Homo sapiens: one gene and its partner. The protein of the gene in region 1 interacts with the protein of each later gene in a pairwise test. Each region holds a gene or a part of one and is shown in the gene's direction. Other genes may lie near its edges.

Region 1 (3,817 bases):
GGCAGACACTGAAAATAAGTAAGTGGTATTGCGTGTAATAGTAATGACCCAGAATTGAAAGCACTGGAGTTTTACCAATAAGATAACCCATAGATTTAATGCTGTTACTTGATGGCTTTTTGTTTTTGACAAGGGAGACTTACTGTACCCTCATCCCTCAAAGAGTATTTGAAAGAATGCTTTTTTTTTCTTTTTTTAATAGAGACAGGGTCTCACTATATTGCCTAGGCAGGTCTCCAATTCCTGGGCTCAAGCGTTCCTCCTGCCTTGGCCTCCCAAAGTGCTGGGATTACAGGCATGAGCCACTGCACCCAGCCCTTAAAAGAGTGGTTTATGTGTATATATTTGACTCTAACGCTTTGAAAAATAGAATATTTTAATGTGGTTATTTCTGTTTGATTAGTCATTTTACCATTGTCATACAACTGTACAAATTTTACTTTGAGATAGTTAAAACTAGAAAATGTGGCCATTTTAACATTAGTTCTATCTTGAAGTTATTTCCAATGTAGAATTTGGAACATAGCATTACTGGCCTGTTTTTAAATGTATGAAGAGAGCAAAGATCAGAGTATGTTATTCACTATCTTTTTTTTTTTTTTTCTTTTTTTGAGACAAGATTTCATTCTGTTGCCGAGGCTGGAGTGCAGTGGAGTGATCTTGGCTCACTGCACCCTCCGCCTCCTGGGCTCAAATGATCCTTCCACGTCAGCCTCCTAAGTAGCTGGGACTATAGGTGCCTGCCACCAGGCCCGGCTAATTTTTGTATTTTTAGTAGAGACAGGGTTTCACCATTTTGCCCAGGCTGGTCTTCAACTCCTGAGCTCAGGCAAGCCACCCACCTTGGCCTCCCAAAGTGCTGGGATTACAGGCGTGAGCCACCTTGCCCAGCCCTTCACTAACTTTTTTTTTTGTGTGTGTGAGATGGAGTTCACTCTTGTTGCTTAGGCTGGAGTGTAGTGGCACTGTCGGCTCACTGCAACCTCCGCCTCCCGGGTTCACGCGATTCTCCTGCCTCAGCCTCTGGAGTAGCTGGGATTACAGGCACCCGCCACCATGCCTGGCTAATTTTTTATATTTTTTAGACCAGCTGGCCAGGCTGGTCTCGAACTCCTGACCTCGGTGATCCACCCTCCTTGGCCTCCCAAAGTGCTGGGATTACAGGTGTGAGCCACCACACCCAGCCCTTCACTAGCTTTTAAAATTACATGGTGTTTTGTTTTGTTTTGTTTTGTTTTGTTTTGTTTTGTTTTGTTTGGAGACATTCTCGCTCTGTTGCCCAGGCTGAAGTAACAGTGGCGCTATCTTGGCTCACTGCAACCTCCGCCCCCTGGGTTCAAACGATTCTCCTGCCTCACCCTCCCGAGTAACTGGGATTACAGGCATGCATCACCACGCCCAGCTAATTTTTTGTATTTTTAGTAGAGACAGGATTTCACCATGTTGGCCAGGCTGGTCTCGAACTCCTGACCTCAGGTGATGCATCCGCCTTGGCCTTCCAAAGTGCTGGGATTACGGGCATGAGCCACCACGCCTGACCTAAAATCATGTTTACTTTGCCAGTTATTTGTTACAGTATTGTGGTTTAAAGTCTTGGATTACAGGTTATTTAGGACAGTGATTCCTAACCAGAAGCATATTCAAGTTAGTTGGGGGGTGGGAGGGGCAGATGTTTTCTAAACTTTTTCTTTTTTCTTTTTTTTTTTTGAGATGGAGTTTTGCTCTTGTTGCCTGTGCTGGAGTGCAATGGCGTGATCTCGGCTCACTGCAACCTCTGCCTCCAGGGTTCAAGCAATTCTCCTGCCTCAGCTCCTGAGTAGCTGGGATTACAGGCATGTGCCACCACGCCCGGCTAATTTTGTATTTTTAGTAGAGATGGGTTTCTCCATGTTGGTCAGGCTGATCTCGAACTCTGACCTCAGGTGATCTGCCCTCCTTGGCCTCCCAAAGTGCTGGGATTACAGGCGTGAGCTGCCGCACCTTAAACTTTTTCTTTTCTTCAGAAAGAATTTGCTCTTATGGTGAGCACTGTTAATGATGGGAATATCATATTCCGTGGATTTGTTGGGATAAGGAAAAATGATATACTATTGGAGGGAGTAGATAAAAATACATGGTATTGGGTGATGTTTTGAACTTGGTAATAAAAATTTATGCAAAACTATAATGGAATCATAATTTTGCATGATAAACAATGAAGTTGTGATTGGTGCCTTAACAAATGAACCCTATGCAACGTTAAGTTTCTCATAGTGGTCAACACAACTTTTTTTTGTTTCTTTGAGACACAGTCTCCTGTCTCCCATGCTAGAGTGCAGTGGCGCGATTTTGGCCATTCTGAAGTTCAAGCGATTCTCCTGCCTCAGCCTCCCGAGTACTGGGACTACAGGCATGCTCCACCATGCCTGGCTAATTTTTGTATTTTCAGTAGAGACATGGTTACACCATGTTGGCCAGGCTGGTCTTGAACTCCTGGCCTCAAGTGATCCTCCCGCCTTGGCCTCCCAAAATGCTGGGATTACAGGTGTGAGCCACCGTGTCCAACCACAACTGTTTAATAGAGCCCATGTTCAATCACTCAGTGATATGCAAAGATTATAACTGTTTACCAAAAGGTACTAATGTATTGATAGGCTATTGGTAGCAAATCCTTAGCTCAGTGCCCAGGAGCGAAACTGAGGGTGTTTGGTTTAAAGAAAATAATTATCCATCACATTAGAACTGTCTGTAATCTTATTCCAGACTAGGGGAGAATCTGGGCATAGCATATGGAAGTATAAATTTAAGAAACACAACATTGGCTGACTTTGATGAACTAACTTATATATAGCTTCCAGAGCTTCTGTTTGGTTTTTATTTAATCCTTGCAGTAATTCCTGAAAGGTAGGTGTCATGCCTCCATGATATGATAAAAGGTATGCTAAGTTCTATTCCTGGCTGTGTCATAACATATGGGTAAGCAGGACTTTTTTTATATTCTTAGATTTCTCATCTGTAAAATGACTAGGTGGACTCAGTACCCAAGATCCCAAGATCCTGTCAATTCAATATAAACTTGCTCTAGGAAGTTTTTTGTTTTTTTTTTGCAGCATAGATGTAACTGGAGGAACTTTTAAGATAGCATTTGTCAAACAGTAAAGGGCAGCATCCAGGGAGATATTTGAGCTCTAAGGCTAACTGAATCACCTGCTATCTTTGGAAAGAAGCAGGGCTCCCCAAATAGCAAATGACTTGTTTGGTGACAATTGCAGATTGAGATTATACTAAAATAATGGATCCTTAGGCCTGTGCTTTGTTTCTGTAAAAAGAGGAAAGGATCATATTCTATAGTTAAGACCTGAGAATTATATTTGGAAATAAATGGTTTAGTATTAAATAATGAAACCAGTGTGTGTTTGTGGATAGTTCTATTAGTAGTGAATCCATGGCCTCCTTTCCATATACAGGTTGGTTTGAAAATTGGAGTATAAGGATTTTAGGATTTGTAGAAACACGGCTATTGTTTTGATTTGCTCTAAGTGCTAGTTGCTGAAACAAAGCATAGAGGAACAGTTCTTTTATATTCCAAAATTTGAACCCTGGTTGCTGACAGACATCCTAGAGGATTACCTTCTTGTATGTTATTAAGAGTTACATATTGTGGGAATTATGGAAATTAAAAATGTGGTTTAGGAGAAGATAGGCTGAGGATTTTACATAAGAGGGTAGTTTTTAAACAAGGTAGTGTTTTTAAGAAATGTGTATTTTAGTATTCGTAAAGCCAGTTCTAGATTGTATTACTGATAAATGATCATTTAAGAGTTCATAAGTATGAATT
Region 2 (3,817 bases), on another chromosome or scaffold:
GACCCAGGAGCCTGGATTCCCAGCCCTAGAGGACTGACTACTAGATAATACTCCTTTTTTTATTTTTCTAGTTCAGCCCTGCTTTGAGGCCTTTACTGTGCCTTGTACATCTGGGTCTCCTGCACTCCAGGCAGAGGAGGTCTCCTGGCATAACTGCTTCTGTTGCAGTGTTTGAGCTTCTGGGCTCCAATTGCTGTCTCTGGGCTCCAGAAGCTCTGTGGACCCCCATCTCCTTCTCCCTGCTCCGCCTAGCCTGTGGAGGACCAGGGAGCAGACAGTGATGGGCAGCAGCAGTGGGTGTAGAGCTGGGCTGGGCCTCAGGATTGGGGCACCCAGAAATAGCAATAATTGGTTGTGTGGAGGCCATCAGTGTGGGTATCCACAGTGCTGAATTCAGGGTAGAACTGTGAATCAGAAACTAGGGGGCAAGACAACAGGTAGGAGACACCAGAACCTAAGACATCTGCATTTTGGGGGCCGTATCCTCTTCTAGCTTGATGCTGCCTGTTGAGTGGAGAGAAGCCCATGGGTTCACGTTCCTGAGGATGCAGGTGGGACTTCGTTTCCTCTAACAAACTCTTACTATATGCCTGGCCCTTTTCTAAGCACTTTGAAATACAAACTTGTCTAATCCTCAGGACAACTCTAGGAGGCAGGGACCATTTTATTCCCATTTTAGAGAAAAGGAAACTGAGGCACTGAGAAGTTCATAAGTTTGCCCAAAGTTGTATAGCTGGGAAATGGCAGAGCTGGGATTCAGCTCCGGAATCTACACTCTCAGGCACCATGCTGTGCTATGCATCTTTCCCTTTATTGAATGTTTCCTATTTGCCTTCAAAGGAAGATACTATTTTCCCCATTTCACAGATACAGAAACTGAGGCCTGCATTGCTCAGGTCACCTAGCTAATAAGAGCTGAAGGTGGGTGAAATCTAGGTGTGTGTGGCTCCTCGGTGGACTGCCATCTCTGGACAGATCACAGCCATGAGCCCAACTGCTGGGAGCTGGAAGGGCTCACCTACCTCCCTTTCAGGAAGGGCTGCTGTGGCTGCTTGAGGCCGGGCTCAGGGAGGGGGAAGGAAAGAGGACCGCAAGCCTCCGAGGGCGGGACCCCGTTGTCTCTCCTAACACCCGACCCCCTTCTCTTCCCCTCAGGTGAACAGCCCCCCCTCCCAGCCCCCCCAGCCCGTCGTCCCTGCTAAGCCCGTGCAATGCGTCCATCATGTGTCCACTCAACCCAGCTGCCCAGGACGGGGCAAGATGTCCAAGCTGCTGAACCCAGAGGAGATGACCTCGAGAGATTATTACTTCGACTCCTATGCCCACTTTGGGATCCACGAGGTAAAGTGTCCCGAGTGGGTGGCTAATGGGGCGAGGCTGACTCTGCTGTTCTGTTGTTTTCAGAGGCAGCATAGTGTGTTCAACTCCTTACCATGGTAAAGGGAGTGCTCCCAGTGTTCCTGAGTCCTCTGACCCTTTCTCCAATCCGGGGGGCCCCTCTGGGAGGGGGCCAGGCCAGGCCTGGAGCAGGGGAGCAGGTGAAAGTGTGTGTCTGTATACTCCACAGCCAGAGAGAGCACACAAGGTGCTTACGGTCCATTTGTTTTACATTCCAGCTCCCGTGTCTCTCCCCAGCCATAAACCCAGCTCATCCATTGTGGGCTGGATAGCGCTGGTCTTTGGACCAGGAGCTCAAATGCTGCAGTCAGAGTCCTGAGGCAGCAAGGACCTTTCAGAGGTCATGATGTGCATTCTTTTGACCAATGAGCACCTCCGGGGGAAGAGCTGCAGGAAGCTTTCTTGGGAGCTTGGCCCAGGTCTGACACCCTGATTGATTGTCTGGAAATTCTTATGTCTAAATGCCAGTTTACCCCATAGCAGGGAAGACTAATGTTGACTATGGAACAGAACAGAACCTCCTAACAAGAGGCATCCTGGCCATAGTGGGGGCCTAATGGTGCCCCTACTGTATATCTTTCATTATAATCTCCAGCACTCTCTCCAGCCACCCCAAATAAACAAGTAGGATTTACTGAGTGCTTGCTAAGTGACAGGCACAGTTCTAAGCACATTATACGTATCATTTCATTTAAACTCTATGAAGAAAATATGTCCGTGATCCTCTTACAGCATAAGAAAAAATTGAAAAAGGAACAAAAGTTTGCTTGCTGTGCAAATCGGTTTTCAAAACAAGTCTTGAAGATCTTCCTTCCACGTACTCACTGCTGTAAACTCTTCCTATGTGGAAATGATGACCCTGCCATTGCCGGAAGGGTGTTTAGTAATAATAGCCAGCTCTTTTGTTTGTTTGTTTCGTTTTAGTGCTTACTACGTGCTGGTGTTGTTCCAAGCATTTTATATTATTGGTTCATTTATTCTTCAGGTCAATCCTGCAAGGTTGGTGTTATTGCTTGTCCCCATTCTCCAGATGATTTAGGCCCTTAAGAATCAAATCAACCCTCATTCATCCTTGACGGTTTTTTTGTGTGCGTGTGTGCGTGTGTGAAAGGCCACAAGCTAGTAGATGGCACAGCTAGCAATCAAACCTTCACCTTTTGTTCCTAACCATCATGCCATACAGCCCTTAAAACAAGTTTCCTTTCTTTCCATCTGGAAACTGTAAAAATTAAATTGCCATATTTGTTCCTGCTGGTTCTTCTGCAGCCCTACATGGAGGTAGAGGGTGGAAGGAGGCCCCCCAGTTACTTCTAGACTCAGGGGCTCAGCCTCATTTAATCCAGGGAGGCTCAAGGTTTGGGTCCCTGAGAACTGTTCACCATGTAAAACCATTAAGCCTGGACCTGCAGGGGAGGAGGACTGGGGCCTGTGTTCGGTCCAGAAGGTCCTGGCCCAGGAGGGCCTGGACAGCTGAGCCTGCAGCTTCTGGGAGATAAAATGCCATCTCAGGGCAGATGGATGAACTCTTACCCCTTCCTTGACCCTGCTCTCCACTGGGCTAGGGATTCCTGGAGCCCCATCCTTGGCCTGTGAGAGGCTCTTGGGGGCAAAAGAGACTCTGCGAAGGCCCCTTCCTCAAGACCTTGTCCCTAATTAAAAGTCATGTTCTCCATGTGACAAGTTCTAACAGGCCTGTGGCTCTGGGTACCCATTTCAGGACAGATTCTTGGGAAAAGAGAGCAGTTCCAGGGACCCCAAAATGTCTCCTCTTGGGCCTGCCCAGAACTCCCCCATTAGAAACCAAACAACCATGAGGTGCACCTCAAGCTGGGTCTGCAGTCTCCCCTCCCCACTCGGAGCCTCCGTGATCGGCTTCTTGGACACCTCCCTCTGAGTTGCTAGGTTCCTGCTGAGCCACACCTTTGGCGTTTAGAGTGTGCTCCACTAGGCTATTACCGATCTCTATAATTCCTTTGGGACTTGGTGTCCCCAGCCTGTTACCTACAGCTTGGCACATTGTCTGGAGAGCAAAGGCTTGTTGACATGGCTGCTAATCCAGTCATTCAGGCGATGCCTGGTCAGCACCATGACCCAGCACCCAGGGGAGAGGACATCAAGTTTCACCAAATAAATACTAGACCAGTTTCCCTCAATTGTGTGTACTTATGGAAAAGTCAAGCTTGTGCATACGTATATATAAACATAGTGCGGGCTGAGCAGGGGACTTAGAGTATAAGACCTGTGAGTCATAGATCACATTCCTGTCCTGGGAGAGTGCTTAGCAGCCTTCCCATTGGGAAATACTTCTGGACATCTAGCTTAAATCCCTCCTGCTGCTGCTATAGACCATCTCATAGGTCCTTTAATGCAGGAACAGCTAGGTAACCTTCCTTCCCCCCGAGGTCTCCTTTTACCCTGT

The links.
Region 2: the proteins of SERBP1 (region 1) and PRMT8 interact in a two-hybrid assay, tested with the Homo sapiens proteins (one large-scale study listed by BioGRID and IntAct).

Annotation. Positions count from the first base shown.
Region 1 is NC_000001.11:67,420,401-67,424,217, reverse strand, and holds part of SERBP1 (SERPINE1 mRNA-binding protein 1), read left to right. Parts: coding exon 1-18; intron 19-3,817. UniProt on the Homo sapiens protein: Ribosome-binding protein that promotes ribosome hibernation, a process during which ribosomes are stabilized in an inactive state and preserved from proteasomal degradation.
Region 2 is NC_000012.12:3,539,451-3,543,267, forward strand, and holds part of PRMT8 (protein arginine N-methyltransferase 8), read left to right. Parts: intron 1-1,155; coding exon 1,156-1,341; intron 1,342-3,817. UniProt on the Homo sapiens protein: S-adenosyl-L-methionine-dependent and membrane-associated arginine methyltransferase that can both catalyze the formation of omega-N monomethylarginine (MMA) and asymmetrical dimethylarginine (aDMA) in proteins such as NIFK, myelin basic protein, histone H4, H2A and H2A/H2B dimer.